Homo sapiens: one gene and its partners. The protein of the gene in region 1 purifies or fractionates together with the protein of each later gene. This does not show direct contact. Each region holds a gene or a part of one and is shown in the gene's direction. Other genes may lie near its edges. The genes, in order: FAM124A, NDE1, ACAD11, PALS1, DIXDC1, NBEA and LRBA.

Region 1 (3,500 bases):
GCCGTGTGTTTTGTAAAGGTGAACAACCAGGAGCGATCATTTAGCCAACAAAAGGGTTGAATAAATTATAGTGTATTAATTTAAAATGATAATTACAGGAAATGTGTAGCAGCATGTTATGATGGTATCAAGTGAAAAGAGCAATTCAAAATTGTGTCTCCATCATTATGGCAACTGTGTACAAATTGCATATACTGAGGATCAGAGGCTGGAGAGCAGTGGGAGGCTGTAGGTGACTTTCTGTGTGTTTCCGTTGTGACGGTGGACCCGGGTGAAAGTTGGACAGCAGAGCTGGGCCATCCGTCACGGAGAGAGGGGTTTGTGTTTTACACTAGCGAGCTTGAATTTCATCCAGAGAGAGACATGATCAGATTTATCCTTTGCAAAGATTGGCTGCTGTATGTGGAGGGAACTGCAGCAGGATCAGCGTGATTGTCAGAAGGCTGACCATTCGGCGGGCCCAACCCGGTGGTGCCCTTAGTCTCTAGAAACGTGGAGGGACTCATAGAGGGGCATCAGTTATGCCAGCACCTGTCCCAAGACACTAAAATACTGTTGCACTTTAAGATTCTTGAACTATGTTTCAAGTGTAAATTTCATTCTACATACATATCCATCTGTATGCAGATCTTTAAAATGTATGCATATGTGAATCCCATCTGCTTCAAGAGAATTTGGAAAATCCTAGCTGAAAATACACATTTTAAAGAATAAAAGAAATAGAAATATCGCCATTCTTATTGTGTGTTGTATTTGAATAGTCATGACATTTCTTTAAAGTCTGTCCATCTTAAGATGATTTTATTGTAATCAAGTTGTTTTCCTGTTGCATCTACCACAGTGGATATTTGCTGAGCAGTCACTAAGTTTATATATAATTACATTTCCAAGTATTGTTCTAAAGTTTATGTCCTGAATGGTTCCAGAAAGAATTTAATGCACCAGTACTGGGTTACAAATCCTGGGCTTCAGAATGTTGCTAATCCTTGACCCTCCCCTCTCTGTTGTCTCCCTTAGCTAGTATGTCACCATGTGCTAGCCAGTCAATCCCTTCTGCCTTCGGAGTCCTTCCTCTCCACCCACCGTGCACACTCAACTTCAGTCACTAATCATTGCTCACCTCCTGGCCTCTGTACAGATAGTATCACTTTAATTTCCTAGTCAATAAAATATTGAATTATATATATATATATGAATGCAGTTTGTAATATATAAAGGGATATGCAAATGTTGGTAGTTGTTATTCTTTCCAGTTTTAAAATTCATTGATTCCATGACTACTAAAGTATTTCATTTGTGAAAGTGAAAACCACATGTTGTTTTCTTCCATTTTGTTCCTCGACCAATAAATCAATGCAGCATTTTGAGTGATGTAGGTTATTTTAATCAGTAAGAGGCATGCTGCTTATGATTTTTTTAAAAAGTTTTGCATGTACTTTTTTAAATGTGGCAAGAAGTTCAATGGAGTGAAAATTGGATGATTCAGGAAAGGCAGCAGGAGACTAAGGAGATAAAAGGAATGTATATCTATAAAATTAAACATAATTAAGCAGTTTATTTGCATAACTTCGTCCCCTAACTTCCATGGCAGAATAAATCCCTACGTGCTAAAGTGATTAATTTCCTACTGAGAATGACTTTGGGACACTAGGGGAAGAAAATAAGTAGCTTCCATATCAAATTTGTTGCCAGAGAGGAAAGTCTTAACAGCTACAGAAGTAGGGCAGAAACTTACTAGAGATTAAGCAGATCCTTGGCCAGAGCCCCACTCTTACGGAGGCTGAATGCCAGCAGCTGATTTCTCAGCATAGAAACTGAAAGGGCGATTTCACCCCAGCCTTAGCCTGCCTTTTCCCTTTCCCGATCACAGCTCACATCCTGTTACTCTAATATCCAGCAGGCTTTCTTCTCAGATGGAACTGAAATCAGTGGAAATATCATTGTGCCTTTGTTTCCTGGTGGTCAGCCCCACCTTGAATGTGGAAACCTTCGCAGCTGAGGTTCCCTCTCTCCTCGCGCTGGGATCCTCTGCTTATGTTAGCAAAGAACATTTCCCCATGGTGTTGTGCGAATATTTGAAGGGTGCTCATTTGCAGTAACCTTTGGAGTGAATCTGTGAGTGGTGAATCTGTTGAAAACTTTGGGGCTTCTCCCCAGAGAAATAACCATTCAATATTTTTGCTAAACCTTTAGATGGCTTCTTCCAAACCTCATCAGAGGAATTTGCAGAACTCACATGAGAGCCCCCAGAATTCTAAAGTTCCTTTAAAGTTTTCTTTCAAATTCAGACATAACTTTATTTTGCATAAAATGAGCCTTAGCACTGCAGTTTTTAATTGGTGACATTTCTTTACCAGCTAAATGCTACTTACCACTGACTGTTTAAAATTCTGGCTTGAATAAATCATTTGGATAAAGAATTCTACTAACGCTGAGGTCTTGTGTTTCAGGTCCGACTACAGCCACCTGTCCTCCACGAGCAGTAAGTATCTTTTAAACATCCTTCAGCATTGTCTAACGGTCCCCGGAGAGGTCAGTACCCTAGAGGCCATGTGTGTACATGGTTTTATAGTAGGTAAGAATCACCAAAGCATCTTTGCCAAAGAATGTGGTACAGGATGCTGTAACTCTGGAAGTGGAGGCTTTTCCTGGAGAATCTGATCATACAGAAATTCAGCCTGAAGGATGTAACCCAGGCTTTATCAGCTGCTTGTGGATGCTTCTAGGAGCATCATCTCTGAAGAATCTGAGGTAGCGCTTTCATTGAACAAACATCTATCAGATACCTGCTACCCTCAGGCAAACAGAAAGCTCAGAGCACAATTCCTGGATCCCTGCAGTTGCTCCAGCTCATCTCTTGCAAAATCTCTTCCCTTGCATGTCTGCATCTGCAGGCAAATATCCTTCCCTCTCCAATGGAGGGAACATCTATCTCTGGCAAAATCCTGCGAAGTGTGTTAACAGTTGGAACAGTTATAGCTAAAGTGGAAAAGTGATAGCTAAATTCCCTAATTATAACCTACATTGGTTATACATGCCAATACATATGTACCAATACGTATGCACATTGATATACATATATATCAGTATGTATAACCGATGTAGGTTGTAATTAGGGAATTTAGCTATTACTTTTCCACTTAAATGTGGCTAAAAGAATACAGACATTTTTATCAATCCATCATCCTGTATTTGTAATTCCTGGCTTATAAGTGGTTATTATATGCAGCAGAAAATGATCAGGAATATGTTTACAAAGACACTCTGGTTATTAAAAAGGTGCTTATATTTAATATTAAAGTACAGGTAAATTTACTCATGAGAAATTATGCCTCATAACTAGAAAGAATTGAGAGTGATTAAGATTACTACATAAATGACCAAAGCCATTCAGATTGATTGAATACTTATTTTAAATTAACAAAAGTAATTGTCTTAATATAAAGGCCCTGATTGTTTAAATCAGTAAATATTAAATTGTTTTGCCCTATCTCACTAGC
Region 2 (3,500 bases), on another chromosome or scaffold:
TTTCCACATTCGTGAATGATGGTGTGCATCTTTGAACATGGGTCCTTGCCTGCCTAAGTATTTTTGTAGGTTGATCATTGTAAACTTGGAAAGCACAAAGACAGAAGCCAGGCTTGCTGACTCTTGACTGATGTTGCCCCAGTGATGTCACTCCTGCAAAATGCAAAGCCTGCGTCCTGGCTGTCGGAGCATGTGTGGACATTTGGCAGCTTCTTTCTCTTCCCTCCTGCTCTTCTGTTTGTTTTGATTGGGAAGGATATGGAGTGGGGATGGAGAAGGGTGTTGAGTAATTATCGATGGTTTCTGTATGTTTATTGCTCCTGACTAGCAGTGCTGGGTTTCTTCTCTCAGAGGAAAGCTGAAAGAGATTGCTTTGCTTTTTTCCAGAGTTTTAAAATCAGAGGTGTGTGTCTCGAGTGTATTTTCAGACTTTTTTGTTAGCTTTAATCATGTAAAACATGCAAAAAAAAAAAAAGCATGTGGAAACAATTTTTTTTTTTTGAGACGGGTTCTCGCTCTGTCACACAGGCTGGAGTGCTGTGGGGCGATCTCGGCTCACTGCAACCACCGCCTCCCATGCTCAAGTGATCCTCCCACCTCAGCCTCCTGAGTAGCTGGGACCACAGGTGTGCATCACCACACCTGGCTAATTTTTTTGTGTTTTTGGTAGAGATGGGGTTTCACCATGTTGCCCAGGCTGGTCTCTTATCTGCTGACCTCAGGTGATCTGCCTGCCTCACCCTCCCAAAGTGCTGGGATTACAGGCATGAGCCACCACACCCGGCCGGAAACAAATTTTTGAAGGAGGCATAGATCTCTGTTGTGCAAAATAGATACTTTTTGTACCACTGGGTCCTAGTTTGTCATTGTTCCTTGCATGATCCCATCAGATTTGTCTACAGAGCTGCTGGGGCATGATGGTGTGGTGGCGTATTAAGAACGCAGGTTAGTGGCACACAGATGAAATAAATGCATGTGGGGTGCATTTTTAAGATAGCAGGTGCAAAGTTGTATATACTGAGACCAGGCATTAACACTTGCCTATTACAGTGCCTTTTAAAACACTATGTGAGGGCCGGGTGCAATGGCTCACACCTGTAATCCCAGCACTTTGGGAGGCCTAGGTGGGCAGATCACCTGAGGTCAGGAGATCGAGACCAGCCTGGCCAACGTGGCGAAACCCCGTCTCTCCTAAAAATACAAAAAATTAGCCAGTCGTGGTGGCATGCACCTGTAATCCGAGGTACTAGGGACGCTGAGGTAGGAGAATCGCTTGAAGCTGCGAGGCAGAGGTTGCAGTGAGCTGAGATCACACCACTGCACTCCAGCCTGGGCAACAGAGAAAGAGATTCCGACTCAAAAAAAAAAAAAACAAAAAAAAAAAAAACAAAACTGGACCAAATGAAACAAGTGAATCTGATCTGCAGTCAGTCAGTTTGCAACCCCTGGGAAGCCTTGGACTTGAATGCAAAGATCCCTTGAACTTGGATCTAGTTTGCCTCTGCTGCTCACATGCACATTTAGAGATGGCCAAGGCATACGGTGTTTCTGCTTCCAAGAAACAGAGTGGTTGTCCTGTTTAGCCATCTCTTACAGTCACACAGCTTAAAGAAGATAATGTTTGCAAACAATTTTTGAAATGTCTAGCACACAGCAAACAGAAGGTCAAATTCAGTACTTAATGCTGATAAAATAAGAGAACCCTTGCAAGTCATGTTGCCTGCTTTCTGCCACAGAGAGTACTGCAATAGAACTTTCTGACGTTTTCATGTTGTTTATTTATTTATTTTTTGAGACAGAGTCTTGCTCTTGTGCCCAGGCTGGAGTGCAGTGGTACAATTTCTGCTCACTGCAACCTCTGCCTCTGGGTTCAAGCAATTCTTGGGCCTCAGCCACCCAAGTAGCTGGAATTATAGGTGCGCTCTACCACACCTGGCTAATTTTTGTGTTTCTAGTAGAGACAGGGTTTCACCATGTTGCCCAGGCTGGTCTTGAACCCCTGGGCTCAAGCAATCCACCCACCTCAGCCTCCCAAAGTGCTGGGACTACAGGCGTGCATCGTGACGCCCTGCTGATTTGTGTATTTTTAGTAGAGACGGGGTTCACCTTGTGCTGGTCTCAAACTCCTGGGCTCAAGCAATCTGCCCACCTCAGTCTGCCAAAGTGCTGGGATTACAGGCGTGAGCCATCGTGCCCGGCCTCTCTCTGACATTTTTGAATGGCAAAGGCAAAAATCTTATACTTTTAAGGATGTGGAGAAATAGGAACACTTTTACACTGTTGGTGGGACTGTAAACTAGTTCAACCATTGTAGAAGTCAGTGTGGTGATTCCTCAGGGATCTAGAACTGGAAATACCATTTGACCCAGCCATCGCATTACTGGGTATATACCCAAAGGACTATAAATCATGCTTCTATAAAGACACATGCACACGTATGTTTATTGCGGCATTATTCACAATAGCAAAGACTTGGAACCAACCCAAATGTCCAGCAATGATAGACTGGATTAAGAAAACGTGGCACATATACACCATGGAATACTATGCAGCCATAAAAAATGATGAGTTCATGTCCTTTGTAGGGACATGGATGAAATTGGAAATCATCATTCTCAGTAAACTATTGCAAGAACAAAAAACCAAACACCGCATATTCTCACTCATAGGTGGGAATTGAACAACGAGAACACATGGACACAGGAAGGGGAACATCACACTCTGGGGACTGTTGTGGGGTGGGGGGAGGGGGGAGGGATAGCATTGGGAGATATACCTAATGCTAGATGACGAGTTAGTGGGTGCAGCACACCAGCATGGCACATGTATACATATGTAACTAACCTGCACATTGTGCACATGTACCCTAAAACTTAAAGTATAATAATAATAAAGAAAAAGAAAAAAAAAGATTGCTGTTTTATGATAAAGTGAAGTGCAGCTGTTACTTCTTCCTTCTTTGCTTCCAGCATCTCTCTTCCCTAAGGATTGCTTTTAAAATGTAAGAGTTTTTGGTTGAAATGCTGTTCCTGTGGTTTTTGTCTCTTGGTTGGAGTGAAAGATTTTGCAGGCTGTGATACAAATCCAGTTCTCTGCTTATTTTCTCCTCAGTCCTTGAAATCCAAAACCAGATCCCTCCCATTGGCCCGTTGTAATTAGAACCTGCCCCACAATAGACGCACCTCCTAAAGCATCTCAGATTCATTTCTTTCCTGAGGATTAAGTTTTTAAACCTTCCTGGCCAAGATAACAGTGTTTTAAGAGGCTCTTTTCTTTTATTATTATTATTATTATTATTACTCTTTTCTTTTTTTGAGATGGAGTCTTGCTCTGTCACCCAGGCTGGAGTGCAGTGGCAGGATCTCTGCTCACTGGAACCTCCACCTCCCGGGTTCAAGAGTTTCTTCTGTTTCAGCCTCCTGAGTAGATGGGATTACAGGCATGTGCCACCATGCCCAGCTAATTTTTGTATTTTTAGCAGAGATGGGGTTTTACCATGT
Region 3 (3,500 bases), on another chromosome or scaffold:
CTGCCTACCTTTGAGACTGGTTCTAATCCCAAGTGGTATCTGGTTTACTGCTTAAAAGGATTTGGGAATTTTACATGCATGATGCTGTTTTCTTCAAATAAGTTTTCATCTACTAGTTACAATATTTAGCTTATCCATGTTCTTGCTGTTTTTTCTGGTTCATTTATACTTCTTTGGGGTTTTTAGCCCTATCTCATGAAGAATTTATTATTTGTTTATTATAAACTCTGAGAATAGAGAATTCCAAAAGCTTCTTGAGGCTTCAAAAGAATTACATGAGATTAATATAACCTTGCTCAATGTAAATGTGCATACTGTATTCTTTATAAAGAGTATAAACAAATGAAAGCTGTAATCCTCCACTGAGCACCTACAATGAGGCCTAGGATTACAGTATAGTAGGAATGAATCCTGCTTCTGAGAGGAGGATTTTCTGGGTTCATTAGTTTCTTAGAATGCTAAGATGTTTTAGGGCAGGAAGAGCTAGTGGCACTGATGAATTCTGAATTCTAACCTTGTTAATTATCTACCCTGAGATTAGAAAAATTAAATATGCTAATTTATAATCTAGATAATTATAAAAGCATATGCCTGAAAACATAGCAGGATCTGGCCTGTATTTGATCTGTGTCATTTAATTAATATTTTAGTCGAGTCTACATAATATTGAGTCTCTATAGTAGATAACAAATTAGAACCCACTAGACTTGGAGTTCCTTTAAAACAATGACTGTATCTTATTCATCTTTATATTGCAGGTGCTTATATGATTCTGATGAATCTATGTTGAAGGGATTAATTTTAGTTAATTATTCACTAGCAACTATTTCCATCTCATAAATTTATGCTTAACTTTCATTCCCTAGCAGTGTGAACTTAAAGCATGTTATTCAATCTCTCTCTGTGCCTCTATTTTTATTTTAACTTTTTGTTTTGAAATAATTAGAGTCCCCAAAAAAGTTGTAACAGTGTTATAGTACAGAGAAGTCCTGTGTATCCATCATCCAAATTCTGCAAAATGGATATTATACAACTATGGTACATTATCAAAGCCAGGAAATTGACATTGTGTACCTTTTAAAATTGAAAAAAAAAATTCTGAGTTGCTGGGCAGCTAAAATGAAACAGTCAATGTGGAGCAACTAGCTGGTACCTGGCACATCAATGATGCTCAGTTTATTTCAGGTACCCTCATTTTTCCATTTTTTCCCCTTCATTTTTCTCTCTGACTTTTCTTAGACTACTTGTCAAGCTTCTTCAGAAAAATATTAGGGTATAAGTAAATGCTTCATAATATGTACGAAAACCTAAACAGTGGTTGTAGGGGATAGAATTATAGGAGACATAATTGTACATTTCTGTAATGTTTAGGGTTTGATGTTTTTTGGTTTTTATTTTTAAAACAACAGCATGTTTAATTTTTGTCATCAGAAAACACAACAATTAAGAAAGAAGAATAAACAATTTTAAATGACAAACCTTCCAGGAATGTGTGGAGTAAGCCAGTAAAGGAAACTACAGGATATGGCAAAACGAAATTATTTTCTGTTACTTATTTACAAAGTATTTAAAGCATGTTTGGGCAAGTATTTCAGTAGCACAATAGGCTCACTGCAATGTTGAAAAGAAATCCAGTTTTCCTGGAAAATGTTGATTTTCCAAATATAAATTTTACCAGTAGAGAAATGTTTAAGATCTTGGAGTTTAATGTAAAATCTGCATATTGTCATTTCAACTTGAAAAATATATTTAATTAGAAACATCCATTGGAACTTGTCAACTTCAGTGATCTAGAAATTGAAACCCCTTATTTTTGACCTCACCCTCTTTACCTTCTGTTCTTTTATTTCTCTGCATCTTCCCTGAGACACTGCAAATTTGATTGCTGTTAATTTAGAATCCATAAGCCCTTCATGACTTCACTTGACTTCTTATCCTACATAAGCCACATGGTCATAATCAGTCATCTCAAAAACTACCTTTAGTATCAATTTCATTAATAATTTTTTGACTATAGATGTATGCAAGTAATGTAAGAATTATAAAGTGTCCTGACCTTAGGTTACTTATTATTCTAGAATCTTCCCACCCTGACTTTATATCATCATTATTATTATTATTTTACTTTTTATTTTTTCTAATAACCCTACAGGGGATGTCCATCACCCCTTGACTTTAACCAGTTTCTAGCCCTAAACTTGAATCCTCATATTTTTGCTGCAGAATAAAGTCGTGAAGTAAGGTTAATTGGATCTGGGACATTTTTATGCCACATGATTTTATCTAGGCTGTAACTTCATCTCTTAGTAAAACCTGTGACATTTAAAAAATGGCTTTTCTAAATCTTTTCCCTTCTTCTCAAACTCTCACATTTCTTGTCCCATCTCGGTTCCCACTCTCAGCATGTGGTCTTGTCTTCTACCTAACTCATCTTTGTCCTTTCAGTCATTTTCCAGCATAGCCTGCTTTCTAGGAATTACACCATGCCCCTCAAAGTTCTCTTTATATTGTTGAAGACATTTTCGTCCGCTACACAATATCACCTGTATGCAGATTGATGGGTGATATTTTTCTTTAGCCTCATTGCCAAGAAAATTTGTCCCTCTTGAGCAGCTGGTTTGTTTTTGACCTGCATACACTATAAAGATTGTGACTGACCATGCTTCACACTTTATTTTACCCGCTATAAAATTCAAAGCAAATTTTACTACCCACACTAACAACTATGCATGTCCTATCACATTCAATTATGTGTAATAACCTTACTCCTAGCTTCATCTTTTCATTACAAATTCTATTATTTTCTTCCCTGCCTTCTTCATCTACTGTTTGTTCTGTTGGATTGTATGTATTTTTTGTTTGTTTCGAATGCCAATACACATACATATTAATAAAATTCAATGGTGTAAAAAGTATACATAAAATGAATCTCTTTATAAAGAAGATAATTTAAAAAACTAAAAGCTTTCTGTTGAGCTGAGGTTTCAGAAAAACTATCAAAAATAATTTTACTAATAAGTTCCCTAGCAGCAGTAAGACGAACTAGTAAATGTCCAGATCAACCACTAAAAGTTATGTTGAGCTTTTAATAACTCTCAACACAAACAGGCATCAACAGGACTCTAATTAGCTATTGCTAATTAATTTGCACTAATTTATGCAATTTGATGAGCCATCAGCTTTTCTCACTGGCTGTTGTTTTATAGCTTTGTGTTTTTACCCCAAAAATGGTTCAGATATTCTGAAAAGTAACTCCAGAGAAGTTTCCCAATTGTATTAAAAAAGAAAAGTAATCATTTATAGCATAAGTAAGTGCCTCATCTTTACTTTGGATGTTAAAAGCATAGATAACAAATAGAATGATGTAAGAGAAAAATGCATCCATCCTCTTCAGTAGTTTCACAAATCTAGCTAGTATAGTAATTTATAATACTTATAATATTATAAATTTATAGTATAATATAACCACAATAAAAGCTCTTATAAAGTCATAGAGAAAG
Region 4 (3,500 bases), on another chromosome or scaffold:
CTATTCACTCTGATGGTAGTTTCTTTTGCTGTGCAGAAGCTCTTTAATTAGATCCCATTTGTCAATTTTGAGTTTTGTTGCCATTGCTTTTGGTGTTTTAGTCATGAAGTCCTTGCCCATGCCTATGTCCTGAATGGTATTGCCTAGGTTTTCTTCTAGGGTTTTTCTGGTTTTAGGTCTAACATTTAAGTCTTTAATCCATCTTGAATTAACTTTTGTATAAGGTGTAAGGAAGGGATCCAGTTTCAGCTTTCTACATATGGCTAGCCAGTTTTCCCAGCACCATTTATTAAATAGGGCATCCTTTCCCCATTTCTTCTTTTTGTCAGGTTTGTCAAAGATCAGATGGTTGTAGATGTGTGGTATTATTTCTGAGGGCTCTGTTCTGTTCCATTGGTCTGTATCTCTGTTTTGGTACCAGTAGCATGCTGTTTTGGTTACTGTAGCCTTGTAGTATAGTTTGAAGTTGGATAGGGTGATGCCTTCAGCTTTATTCTTTTGGCTTAGGGTTGTCTTGGCAATGCAGGCTCTTTTTTGGTTCCATATGAACTTTAAAGTAGTTTTTTCCAATTCTGTGAAGAAAGTCATTGGTAGCTTGATGGGGATGGCATTGAATCTATAAATTACCTTGGGCAGTATGGCCATTTTCACAATATTGATTCTTCCCATCCATGAGCATGGAATGTTCTTCCATTTGTTTGGTCCTCTTTTACTTGGTTGAGCAGTGGTTTGTAGTTCTCCTTGAAGAGGTCCTTCACATCCCTTGTAAGTTGGATTCCTAGGTATTTTATTCTCTTTGTAGCAATTGTGAATGGGAGTTCACTCATGATTTGGCTCTCTCTTTGTCTGTTATTGATGTATAGGAATGCTTGTGATTTCTGCACATTGATTTTGTATCCTGAGACTTTGCTGAAGTTGCTTATCAGCTTAAGGAGATTTTGGGCTGAGACGATGGAGTTTTCTACATGTACAATCATGTCATCTGCAAACAGGGATAATTCGACTTCCTCTTTTCCTAATTGAATACCCTTTATTTCTTTCTCCTGCCTGATTGCCCTGGCCAGAACTTCCAACACTGTGTTGAATAGGAGTGGTGAGAGAGGGCATCCCTGTCTTGCGCCAGTTTTCAAAGGGAATGCTTCCAGTTTTTGTCCATTCAGTATGATATTGGCTGTGGGTTTGTCATAAATAGCTCTTATTATTTTGAGATACGGCGGACGCATCACTTGAGGCCAGGAGTTCGAGACCAGCCTGGGCAACATAGTGAAATCCTGTCTCTACTAAAAATACAAAAAACATTAGCCAGGCATGGTGGTGCACGCCTGTGGTACTGGCTACTGAAGAGGCCGAGTTCGTGCTACTGCACTCCAGCCTGGGCAACACAGCAAGACTTGGTCTCAAAAATAAATAAATAAATAAATAAATAAATAAATAAATAAATAAATAGATATAGAAACTAAGAAGATGATGGTGTTACTCACTGGATGCAAAATGTAACCAACCAGTTATGTAATTGTACTCTGAATCTGTTCTTCTAGTATTGTGAAAGAATGGTATTGGCATAAAGATGTGATTTTTTTCTTGTATGTATTGTTAAAGTCACAGAAAATCATCTATATTGTGGTAAGAGAGAATATATGCCAGACAAATGCTCTGCTGTCTGTCAGAAAGAGGAATAAAGACACAATCTGGAACCAGGAAATAAATAATAATAATAATAATTATTATTATTATTATCAAAAGGAATAATCAGACACTTTAGCAAAAGAAATAAGTTGGAGGGCATTTGTCTTTATTGTCTCTTTTCTATTTAATTCATTTCTTTTTATGCTTTCTTTGACTATAATTTGCACTTGCTTTAGTTTCTCAAGATGAATGCTTAATTTTTAAACTCTTCTTTTCAAATGTAGGCATTTGAAATTATAAATTTCCCTCGAAACAGTTCTTTAGTTGCATCCCGTAAGTTTTGGCATTGTATTTTTGTTACCATTTTGTTAGAAGTATTTTCTAATTTCCCTTCATTTTTTTTTTTTTTTTTTTTGAGATGGGGTTTCGCTCTTGTTGCCCAGGCTGGAGTGCAGTGGCACTATCTCTGCTCACTGCAACCTCTGCCTCCCGGGTTCAAGCAATTCTCTTGCCTCAGCCTCCCGAGTAGCTGGGATTATAGGCATGCACCACCACGCCCAGCTAATTTTGTATTTTTAGTAGAGATGGGGTTTCTCCATGTTGGTCAGGCTGGTCCCAAACTCCCGACCTCAGGTGATCCACCTGCCTCAGCCTTCCAAAGTGCTGGGATTATGGGCCTGAGCCCCCGGCACCCCGCTTCCTTGTTTTTCTCTTTAACACATGAGTTATTTAGAAGTATGTTATATAGTTTCCACCTATTTGGAGATGTGAAAAAGATTTTAACTGATTTATAATTCCAGGTGGTCAGACCCTGAAAGATGTCAGTCTTTTCAAATTTGTTGAGCCTTATTTTATGGCCCAACATCTGTTCTTTCTTGGTGAATGTTCTGTGCACACCTGTTAGGATGTGTATTCCACAGTTTTTGGTGTAGAGGATGGTGTATCTGATTGTATTTATTCTACTTAAGTTTTTTTCTCCTGTGATATTTCTTTCTTTTTTTTGAGACAGAGTCTCACTCTGTCGCCCAGGCTGGAGTGCAGTGGCACAATCTTGGTTCACTGCAACCTCTGCTTCCTGGGTTTAAGTGATTCTCATGCCTCAGCCTCCCAAGTAGCTGGGATTACAGATGTGCACCATCACGCCTGGCTATTTTTTGTATTTTTAATAGAGACGGGGTTTTGCCCTGTTGGCCAGGCTGGTCTCAAGCTCCCGGCCCCATGTGATCCACCTACCTTGGCCTCCCAAAGTGCTGAGATTACAGGCGGGGGAGCCCCTGCGCTGGTATTGGTATTTCTAATAGTGCTTTATTACTCAATGATAGAAGTGCTGAAGTAAAACAGATTTTCAATTTTAACTCTATAAAATTGTGCTAAGAAAATGATGGCGTTACAAAATGTAACCAACCGGTTATCTAGTTGCATTCTGAATCTCTGAATCTGTTCTGCTAGTATGAAGGCTTGAGAGTGGCTATCTAGCAGTATGAACTTATTGTCAGTTTTGCCTAGTTCAGCTAAAAATTTTGAGCTAAAACATTTTGTTTCATCTTAGTCGTGGATTGTAATTTGAAAGAGAACTTCAGACATGAAGTACTAAATAAGTGATATAAGCCATTTTGGCACAAAATGGAATAACAATGCCTTAAATTTGATAAAAACTAGGTGGATTCGGGCTTTATCATTTTCATTTCAACTCCAATACCACAAAGTTTCAGTTCTCTGTGGAGTCCTAGAATGTTCTTCCAATAATCTTGAGCTTACGGTAGACATAAGTTTTAGCAAAAATGTCAGTGTGTTCAGTTACAGTGGTGAAGTAGATTCCCTGCTGGGAACAAAGGATTCTGTGTGCCATATTCAGATGTACAACATTCCAGAAT
Region 5 (3,500 bases), on another chromosome or scaffold:
CCATGGGTGGTTGAAACTGTGGAAAGAAAAACTATGGGTAAGGGAGACTTCTGTACAAAGAACCTGTCCATGAAAGGAAGAAGAAATTCAAGGATATTTTTACTTGTGAACTTTATTTGTACCCAATTAGCCATCAAATTCAATGAACAAATAGCTTTTGCAGGTTCAGTAAAGGGCTGAAAGAGTTAATAGAAAAGAAATACAATAGGGTGTTTACTGGCAGAATTTAGGCCAATAATAACATAAGGTTTTTAAATCTCTAGCCTTGCTCTTAGTTTCTCAGCAACTTCCCCACCCTCATCTCCTCATCTTCTGCTGCTGGAGGGTCTCAGAGTTCTAAACAGGTATCTGGTTTCACTGTAAAACTAATTTCCTTCCTGAGCCATTCATGTCTCCTCCTGAACTGTCTCTCTAGCATACCACAAAAGCTCTCTGCTTTTCTTGTTTGCTTTTCTTGTTGCCAGCAGGAAAACATAGAGTCGCCTCCTTGGCTGTTTCTGCTCTAAGAACAGTAGATACCACATACTTCCCTGGTGAAGCCCCATTGGTGCTTTCGCAACTCTAGCAAATAAGTCCCCTGCAGGAATTCTGTGAGCTTGAGTCTTGGAGGAGATAGAGAACTGAGGCTCGGCTTACAAACCTGTTTGGAAGGAAGGGCAGGTCCCAAAGAAAAACAGGAAGAAGGTTACATTTGGTGGCAAGAAAGCTTTCAAGGTCAAGATTTCCTGCACAAATGAAGATTTTGGATGGAATTGTGTATACTAGAAGACTTTTACCTAAAATCATAGGGTTATTTGGAGTGTCTTGGAGGAAGCTGATGGAGATTATGGGATTGCTAAAGCCTCCTTCCACCGGCCACCTCGTGGTACTATCACTGCTCTCACAACTTTAGAGGGGTCCAGTCTCATCAAGCCAAAATCCTTCTCAGACAGTTTTAACTCTTGTTATGTCTACTGACTGACTTCTTCTGAGGCCTGACTCAGAGGGTGGTTACCATGAAAACCTTCAGTTGTTCTAGACATTTATTACACTGGCATCCTTTTAGCTTCCTTAGAACAAATTAGTCATGAAACTCCAGACTGAGATTAGTTCAACACTGTTACACACGTAGTATGTACCAACTGTCTTGGTCTTTTTTAAAAAATTAGTTCGGTTACAAGTGCCAAAAACCCAACTTGAACTAGCAGGGATAGGAAGTGGACGTTATTGACTCATGGAATCCAAGGAAAGGCAGAAAAACTAAACCATGGAAAGGGCAGGGATGCAGCAGAAACAATGAAATCAAGAACTCTGACACTGGCAGGATCTCTTCCTCTGTTCTCTGCCTCTTGTCTGCTTCTTTCTATGCTGGCTTTATTCCCATTTACTAGAGCTGGTTTTTCCTTCTCAGGTGGGCAGCATGGCCTATGGCAACGTCTAAGTTTTATATCTTACAACTTTGAGAGAGATGAGGGAGGAGGAGGAAGACTGATTCTATTCCTAAATGCCAGTTCAGAAAGTTCCAGGGATTGGCTGGCTTTCACCAATCAACTTTGGCAGACCAATCAAGTGTGACCAGTGGAGGGGGTGATACAATACCAACCTGGTCATAGGACCCACCACTGTGTGCACAGAGGAGGGTTCTTAAAGAAGAGGGAATCATTGTGGGCTGGGCAGCTACCCCAGGAGCTGTTAGCTACACTATCACTGTAAGCCTAGCTGGAATCTGATCATTCCTACTTTGCCTCTCTTGACCAAGATCCAGGGTCATAATCAAAATATAATTCTTTTTTTTTTTAATTGTTATGCGAAAGAGCTTCATTTATTTGTTTAGTTTTCTGACTTTGTGCTGGTGTGTTCAATACTTTTTCTTTTCCTGAATAAGGAAGGCACGCTTGGTTCTGTCACAGACACATTTAGTACACATAGAACAACCACAGGCCTTGCTGACATGGATTTTTTTTTGAGACAGAGTCTTGCTCTGTTGCCCAGGCTGGAGTGCAGTGGCACGATCTCAGCTCCCTGCAACCTCTGCATCCTGGGGTCAAAGGATTCTTGTGCCTCAGCCTCCCAAGTAGCTGGAATTACAGGCATACACCACCAGCCCGGTTAATTTTTTTTTTTTTTTTTTTTGAGATGGAGTCTCGTTCTGTCGCTCAGGCTGAAGTGCAGTGGCACGATCTTGGGTCACTGCAAACTCCGCCTCCTGGGTTCAAGTGATTCTCCTGCCTTAGCCTCCCAAGTAGCTGGGATTATAGGCGCCTGCCACCACGCCCGGCTAATTTTTGTATTTTTTTTTTTTTTTGAGATGGAGTCTTGCTCTTTCGCCTAGGCCGGACTGCAGTGGTGCGATCTCGGCTCACTGCAAGCTCCGCCTCCTGGGTTCCCGCCATTCTCCTGCCTCAGCCTCCCTAGTAGCTGGGACCACAGGCGCCTACCACTGTGCCCGGCTAATTTTTTGTATTTTTAGTAGAGACGGGGTTTCACCGTGTTAGCCAGGATGGTCTCGATCTCCTGACCTCATGATCCGCCCGCCTTGGCCTCCCAAAGTGCTGGGATTACAGGCTAATTTTTGTATTTTTATTAGAAATGGGGCTTTGCCATGTTGGCCAGGCTGGTCTCGAACTCCTGACCTCAAGCTATCTGCCCACCTTGGCCTCCCAAAGTGCTGGGATTACAGGTGTGAGCCACTGCACCTGGTCAGTTTTTTTGTATTTTTAGTAGAGACGGAGTTTTGCCATGCTGGCCAAGCTAGTCTGTAATTGCTGGCCTCAAGTGATCTGCCTACCTCAGCCTCCCAAAGTGCTAGAATTACAGGCATGAGCCACTGCACCCAGCCAACATGTTTTTTTTCCTTTGTTTATTTTGGAGAACCTCTTAAGAACTTTAGGTGTCACAGCAGGAACTCATTGAAGTCGGCCTGGGCACACGCCACATGCAGATTTTGGTGTTTTCCCAACCTTCTTGGTATGAAGGTAAACAGTTCTGTGAACAGGGATTTGGGACAGCCTAATTTTGTTAGAGGCTGTATTGCAGAAAAGCCTACAATGGTATGCCAAATGCTGGACCATTCTGAGTGCCTATGGACACTGTCCCCAGAATAAGCAAGATCTATTTCTCAATATTCCAGATATTTCCATTTTGCTGAGCCTGTTGTATCTTTTTGTCACTGAATAATAGACTTGTAAAATGATAGTGTTAGAAGGAAACAAAATGCAGTTTTTTTTTTCTTTTGGTGTTTATATTTGTTTTGGTTCTTGTTTTCAGCTGCTGTGTGAAGCCCTTAAATTACTTTAGATGGCTGGAGAGTAGGGGTGGGGGCTTGAGGGTGGAGAAACACAGGAAGAGTGAGCTGGGTTTTGGACTCCTGACCCTGGCCTAATCAGAGAAGCACTGCTTTTCCCTATTTTACATATCTGCTTCTTACACAAGTTATAATTTTAAAAAATAATGAGGCCAAAAAAAATGAAGAAATGAAACTACTAGTCCACCTTTCAGAGAGTAACAGCCTCCTGTAAAAG
Region 6 (3,500 bases), about 16 Mb from region 1:
CAAAAGGAGCTGTTTATTACTAAGTTGTTAATTATATTAATTGTGGAGTATAAATTAGTCATTTGAAGTGTAATTTTCTTGAACTGTAGATTTAGGGCTTTATTGTCCAATACACTCATGAAAATGTCATATGAAAATTTAAGTGGATTCTCAAAAATATGTGGAAGTCATGGGCATTTAAAAAACTGATTATCAAACTTAATTCTATTTATTTAGTAAGTAAACCAATAAAATTCATATAGGACACTCAGTGACTCGTTAGAGTTTGGAAACCTTTAATATTAAATCTAAAATGATTTTTTAAAATTTTCAGTTTTAGTTTAACACATTAAATAAAAATGTAAGGTGAAATAGTGAAATACCTATTACTGTGCCCTGAATGACAGAAAAGAAAGGAGAACTAATGAAACTTCAAAAAAAAGAGGAGTTTCTACCTTAAACAATACCTTTGTCTCAGTCGCCTTTGTCAGTATATTTTTCTTTCTTTTTCCTGTTTATTTTTTCTTCCTATGTAAGGATACTCATAAATACTTGGTTTTTAGGTGCTGTTTCTCACATGCCTTGGCCAAAGAATTAAAAGCTGGGCAGAGTGAAGTTTTAAGCATGCACTAAAGTGTAGGACTTCTTCAACAGAGCGGTGGCTGTAATTTTTCTGCTTTGTTTCCCAAAGGTCTAGAGACCTATTTTTACTACTAGGTGGATTGTGGGAGTTTGGTGAGGAATCACCAATGTGATATGATATAAAATTAGTCATTTTTATTAGAGATGTATGTATTTTGTATAATGATGTTATAGTTGACTTAAAACAGTGAAATATGGAATGGATAATGTTAGGAAGGTAGGTAAATTAGTTTGTGAATAAAGTTACAGTCAGAGTGCATTGTCAAGGATTTTGCATTGTAGCTCTACTAATGAAAGAAACTGATCGTTAACAAAGTTTGGCTTCTGGAGGAATTATTTAAAGTGGCAATATAAGAGAATTTAACTACAGAGAAGAGATTTTGTTGATTGTTTTCAGTTGTAAAACTGGCGTACTACCTAATCTATTACTTCTTTTGTAAACACACTTAACATATGTTTATATAAGCTTTATCCATATTTGAAGTAAAAGCTATGTAAGTATCGTGTTATTGTTGCTTATAACATGGAAGTTTCTTTTATAAACATAAATTTCTAGAAAAATATGTTTATAATAGAGGATTAATATTTACTTAGTGAAAGAATTCATAATTTTTTTGGAATGGCTTTCTTATGTGTATAGTATAATTCTATGATTATAATTATGGAATTTAATTATAGACAAATTTTTTATGAATAACTGAATTCATGAAATTTTTTCATGAAATTTTTTCATGGATTTGTAGTTTTTTTTCATGAGTTACAGTGAGTTATATCAGTGTGTCCAGTTGTAGAAAATGATATTTCCTCTGATTTTTTTTTTTTTTTACATTCTAAGTGGCATGCTGTTGGCTGAACTGGAAGCCTAATAAGATGCTTTGAAGGGATTTGTGGTTTACCAAATTTCTCTCATCTTGGCTTATGGATCATGGTATTTTTGTTAAAAGGGTAACTTTAAGGTTTTTTTTTTTTTTGTACTTGAATATGGCAGTAACTCTTCTTCCTTAGAGTTTTTTTAAATTTGCAGCTTGATAGTCATAATTTTCATTTTAAAGATATTTAGAATTTTACAAACAAGGTGTCTTCTGCATTTGAATTATATTTATTTAAAAAATATACAGTTGCATCTTAGAATCATGGAGGTCCTTAATACTAATAAAACCACATTTATATTAAAATAATTTCCTGCATTTTAATTTATGTTGATATATAAGCCTTTTCATATTAATTTGAGTTGTATTTTATTCTCATGATTGGGTATGGAAAATAAAATTCAGGATTCATATGTAAATGCTCGAGGTTTCAATATCTTAAGGAGTTTTGAGATTTTCCTTAGAAATATTAATTTAGTCACATAATGACACTAAGGCAGCAAATATTCTGTGGTCAGTCAACGATCAAGTTATATTAATTTTAAATAAATGTTTTGTGTATTGCTAGCTGCTTTTTGGTAAATACTATGCTGCTAATTAAAAATATCTCAAGGTTCTTTATTCTTTTGCTATACTTTTCCCAAACAGTGTGAAATAATTTATTGGGTCTAACAGACCCAGTGCCCGTTTTGTGTCACTGGTATAGCTGTATTATAAAATTCAGTCACCTGCATTTTTTTTTTAACTATATACTGAACATATTGTTATGCATTAGTTCCAGGTTTTCCATTTCTTGTCTTTATACAATGTCAGCATATCTCTTTGGCATCACATATCACCCTGTAGCATTGCAGTTATTTATGTGTGTTTCCCTTCCTAGGCTGTGAACTCCATGAGGGCAGGAATTGATTTTATGTATATTTATTTTTTGTATTTCTAGGCCTTGGATAAGTTAAGTGCGTTTGTAGTGTGCAGGACACTGTATTAGGCAGTAATGATTATGGTCAGTTTCTGAAGTTATGTTCAACATTACGGTCCAGACTTAGGATCCTGAAATAAACTCATATATAAAGTCAACTCATATAAACTTTATGTATTTCTTATTCCTCAAACTAGAAATATGTGTTCAATGTGTATGATATTACCTGACTGTGTAGGCATTACTGCATATGTAGATGTTATTTTGAACTGGCATCTGTTAGTAAGTTCGAATCTGGTAAAAACTTTTCAGTAAACTTTTATGTATAATCAAATATAATCACATAACAAGGTCATGTTGTTAACAAAGAAAATACGTAATGCATTGAAGAGAAATTGTAGAAAATATTGTTAGCATTTGTCATATTGCCAAGAATAGTGGACATCTCTTGTTTTTGTGTGTCTGGCGTACATGTCACCTCTTTGTAGTGGTACCTCAGTTTTCCTTTGATGACTCACTTATTCCCCATTTGTAGTTCAGCTGGTTTAGGTGGGTCTACCCCACTGCCTGCCTTGAGGGTCAGACATCTAACCTAGGTGTGGCAAGAATTGTGGTGATTGGTTCAGGGACAAACATTTAACCCAAGGGTAGCGAGCCAGAGTAGGTTCCAGGAATTGTGCTGGAAGGCTTTCTGATGGGGATGCTGAATGTGTAAATTCTTAAGAGTTGTAGGTCCCTGTCTTAGAATTTGATCAGGTGTAAAGCAAACAACCTCATGATTCTGTTGGAGAACCTAGAGTTCTTTATGTCTGTGGTGATTATCTTCTAACCATTAAATTATCTCCTTTAAAATTTACTATTGTTATTTATTTCAAATCAGTGTAAGTTGGGTTTTTTGTCACTTGTAAATAGAAGGAATCCCCAGTAACATAGACATTAGTATCTGGAAATGACACATTGTAGGAAACAGACCTTAGATTTTGAAATGGAGTGGAAGGCAGTGAGAACTTTGTGGTCCTCTAGCAGTTCCGTTTTACAGAGCAGCTGTTTAAATTGTCACCTGTGTTATCTTTGTCAATGGAACTACTGAG
Region 7 (3,500 bases), on another chromosome or scaffold:
AATCCAAATTCTATAGCAGCATTTGCTTATACGCTTCCTAGAACTGTAGACCTGGTATAGATTTTAAGGTCATTGGTTAAGTCCTTCAAAGCTGCGTATTTGCAGGATAGTAGGTGCCTGGATAGAAGGAGAGAGAAGAGTCTGTTCAGTTAGTTACCCTCCTCTTCAATATCATTCGCTTGTCAGGTAGGGCAGGAAAAGTTGCTGAGAATATTAGGTAGCAGTTTCTCCCCTTCCATTGTCCCTTAAAATACTTTTCATGCTCTTTCATGGATTATCTGGGGTTTTGGCCACTCTAGAAAATCTTTGGAAGCAGCTGCGCACAGTGGCTCATGCTTGTAATCCCAGAGCTTTGGGAGGTTCACTTGAGGCCAAGAGTTTGAGACCAGCCTGGGCACTATAGTGAGACCCTGTCTCTACAAAAAAAAAAATTAAATAAAAAATTAGCTGGGCATGGTGGCATATACCTGTGGTCCCAGCTACTTGGGAGGATGAGGTGGGAGGATCCCTTGAGCCCAGGAGTTCGAGGCTACAGTGAGCTACAATCATGCAGAGCAACACCCTGAAAAAAAAAATTAGAACGAAAGTATTGGGATTCTGTAAATTAGTCCATCTCAATGTTGTTAGTACTGCTACACGTAAATATTTCCTAATTGATAGTTAGTCTTTTTTTTTTTTTTTTTTTTTGAGATAGAGTCTCAGTCTGTTGCCCAGGCTGGAGTGCAGTGGTGCAACCTTGCCTCCCTGCAACCTCTGCCTCCTGAGTTCAAGTGATTCTCCTGCCTCAGACTCCCAAGTAGCTGGGACCACAGGCGTGCGCCATGAGGCCCGACTAATTTTTGTATTTTTGGTAGAGGCGGGGTTTCACCATGTTGGCCAGGCTGGTCTCAAAATCTTGACCTCAGGTGATCCACCCGTTCAGCCTCCTGAAGTGCTGGAATTACAGGCTTAAGCCACCACGCCTGGCCTAAATATTAGCTACTTAAACAATAAAGTTTATACTGTTAAAATTGAACAAGTTCCTCTCCTCCAGAGGTGTCCAAATAGTACATGGTAGAGCCATATAACTTTCCAGAGTTTTTTCTCTTTTTTTTTTTTGAGACAGAGTCTTGCTCTGTTGCCTAGGCTGGAGTGCAATGGTGCGATCTCAGCTCACTGCAAGCTCCGCCTCCTGGGTTCATGCCATTCTCCGGCGTCAGCCTCCCAAGTAGCTGGGACTACAGGTGCCCGCCACCACGCCCAGCTAATTTTTTGTATTTTTAGTAGAGACGGGGTTTCACCGTGTCAGCCAGGATGGTCTCGATCTCCTGACCTCGTGATCCGCCTGCCTCAGCCTCCCAAAGTGCTGGGATTACAGGCGTGAACCACTGTGCCCGGCCTTTTTTTTTTTTTTTTTTAATTGAGAGGGAGTCTCACTCTGTCACCCAGGTTGGAGTGCAGTGGTGCGATCTCAGCTCACTGCAACCTCTGCTGCTCGGATTCAAGCAATTCTTGTGCCTCAGCCTCCCCAGTAGCTGGATCTACAGGCACGCACCACCATGCCCGGCTAATTTTTTTGTATTTTTAGTAGAAATTAGGTTTCACCATGTTGGCCAGGCTGGTCTTGAACTCCCGACCTCAGGTGATCTGCCTGCCTTGGCCTTCCCAAAGTGCTGGGATTACAGGTGTGAGCCACCGTGCCTGGCCCAGAGTTTTTTCTTAAGTGCTACCTTCCAACTTTGCTAATGTAGCTTGACCTTAGTCTGTTATAAATTACTTTGAAATTTACTACCCTGTTTATAATTTCTTTTGCAAATCTGTTTTGCAGATAAATTTTGATTAACAGTGCACCAATGTAGTCAAGTGTTTCAAACTTCTGGTCAACTTGTACATTTTTCTTGTTGCAGTTTAAAACATTTTATTTTGTTTTCATCTGTATTTTAAAGTAATTTGTCAAACTTTTAGACCCAGAATAATTAATATATGTTGGCATGTTTTCAGGAACTTGCTGCTGAGTTTAAGGCTTCCATCAGGTATTTAAAGGTATTTAGTGCTACCTAATTCAAGAATAGTGATTCCCATGAGCTGGTGACAAATACATACTTTCATGATTTTTTAAAAAATTTTTGTTAAGTAATTACAGTCACCCCTTGATATGTGGGGGATTGGTTCCAGAACCCCTAGTGGATACCACAATTTTCAGAAGCTCCAGTCTCTTATATAAAATGGTATAGTATTTGCATATAACTTACATGTATCTTCCGTATACTTTAAATCATCTCTTTAAAATTTTTATTTATTTATTTATTTATTTATTTATTTTTTTGAGATGGAGCCTCACTCTGTCCCCCATGCTGGAGTGCAGTGGCGCGATCTCGGCTCACTGCAAGGTCCGCCTCCCAGGTTCACGCCATTCTCCTGCCTCAGCCTCCCAAGTAGCTGGGACTACAGGCACGTGCCACCACGCCCAGCTAATTTTTTGTATTTTTAGTAGAGACAGGGTTTAACCGTGTTAGCCAGGATGGCCTGGATCTCCTGACCTCGTGATCCACCCGCCCTGGCCTCTCAAAGTGCTGGGATTACAGGCGTGAGCCACCGCGCCTTGCTCTGTTGCCCAGGCTTGAGTACAGTGGCTTGATCATAGCTCACTGTAGCCTCAAATTCCTGGGCTTAAGCTGCTCTCCTGCCTCAGTCTCCTGAGTAGCTAGGACTTAGAGGCGTATGCCACCAAAACCCGCTAGTTTTTTTTTTTTTTTTTGAGACAGAGTCTTGCTCCCTCACCAGGCTGGAGTGCAGTGGCGCGATCTTGGCTCAGTGTAACCTCCACTTCCTGGGTTCAAGCAATTCTCCTGCCTCAGCCTCCTGAGTAGCTGGGATTACAGGCGTGTGCCACCACACCCAGCTAATTATTGTATTTTTAGTAGAGACGGGGTTTCACCATGTTGGCCAGGCTGGTCTCAAACTCCTGGCCTCAAGTGATCTGCCTGCCTTGGCTTCCTGAAAATGCTGGGATTACAAGTTTGAGCCACCATGCCCGGCTTTCTCCCATATACTTTAAATCATCTCTAGATTACTTAGAATACCTAATAGAATGTAAATTCTATATAAACAGTTGTACTCTATATTTGAAAATTTGAGCTGGGCACAGTGGCTCATGCCTATAATCCCAGCAGTTTGGGAGGCTGAGGTGGGAGGTCAGAAGTTTGAGGTCAGAAGTTCAACACCAGCCTGTGCAACATAGTAAGACCTTGTCTGTATAAGAAAAAAAAATACCATTTTATATATATATATATATATATATATATATATATATATATTTTTTTTTTTTTTTTTTTTGAGATGGAGTCTCACTCTGCCACCCAGGCTGGAGTGCAGTGGCGTGATCTTGGCTCACTGCAACCTCCGCCTCCCGGGTTCAAGCAATTCTATCTCAGCCTCCTGAGTAACTGGTATTACAGGGATGCACCAGCAAGCCCGGCTAATTTTTGTATTTTTGGTAGAGATGGCGTTTCACCACGTTG

Evidence for each region.
Region 2: the proteins of FAM124A (region 1) and NDE1 purify together in Homo sapiens (affinity purification with mass spectrometry; one large-scale study listed by BioGRID and IntAct). This does not show direct contact.
Region 3: the proteins of FAM124A (region 1) and ACAD11 purify together in Homo sapiens (affinity purification with mass spectrometry; one large-scale study listed by BioGRID and IntAct). This does not show direct contact.
Region 4: the proteins of FAM124A (region 1) and PALS1 purify together in Homo sapiens (co-immunoprecipitation; 2 studies listed by BioGRID and IntAct, with this or other methods). This does not show direct contact.
Region 5: the proteins of FAM124A (region 1) and DIXDC1 purify together in Homo sapiens (affinity purification with mass spectrometry; one large-scale study listed by BioGRID and IntAct). This does not show direct contact.
Region 6: the proteins of FAM124A (region 1) and NBEA purify together in Homo sapiens (affinity purification with mass spectrometry; one large-scale study listed by BioGRID and IntAct). This does not show direct contact.
Region 7: the proteins of FAM124A (region 1) and LRBA purify together in Homo sapiens (affinity purification with mass spectrometry; one large-scale study listed by BioGRID and IntAct). This does not show direct contact.

Annotation. Positions count from the first base shown.
Region 1 is NC_000013.11:51,228,898-51,232,397, forward strand, and holds part of FAM124A (protein FAM124A), read left to right. Parts: intron 1-2,450; coding exon 2,451-2,482; intron 2,483-3,500.
Region 2 is NC_000016.10:15,653,245-15,656,744, forward strand, and holds part of NDE1 (nuclear distribution protein nudE homolog 1), read left to right. Parts: intron 1-3,500. UniProt on the Homo sapiens protein: Required for centrosome duplication and formation and function of the mitotic spindle. Essential for the development of the cerebral cortex.
Region 3 is NC_000003.12:132,635,810-132,639,309, reverse strand, and holds part of ACAD11 (acyl-CoA dehydrogenase family member 11), read left to right. Parts: intron 1-3,500. UniProt on the Homo sapiens protein: Acyl-CoA dehydrogenase, that exhibits maximal activity towards saturated C22-CoA.
Region 4 is NC_000014.9:67,328,435-67,331,934, forward strand, and holds part of PALS1 (protein PALS1), read left to right. Parts: intron 1-3,500. UniProt on the Homo sapiens protein: Plays a role in tight junction biogenesis and in the establishment of cell polarity in epithelial cells.
Region 5 is NC_000011.10:111,943,843-111,947,342, forward strand, and holds part of DIXDC1 (dixin), read left to right. Parts: intron 1-3,500. UniProt on the Homo sapiens protein: Positive effector of the Wnt signaling pathway; activates WNT3A signaling via DVL2. Regulates JNK activation by AXIN1 and DVL2.
Region 6 is NC_000013.11:34,945,270-34,948,769, forward strand, and holds part of NBEA (neurobeachin), read left to right. Parts: intron 1-3,500. UniProt on the Homo sapiens protein: Binds to type II regulatory subunits of protein kinase A and anchors/targets them to the membrane. May anchor the kinase to cytoskeletal and/or organelle-associated proteins.
Region 7 is NC_000004.12:151,008,785-151,012,284, reverse strand, and holds part of LRBA (lipopolysaccharide-responsive and beige-like anchor protein), read left to right. Parts: intron 1-3,500. UniProt on the Homo sapiens protein: Involved in coupling signal transduction and vesicle trafficking to enable polarized secretion and/or membrane deposition of immune effector molecules. Involved in phagophore growth during mitophagy by regulating ATG9A trafficking to mitochondria.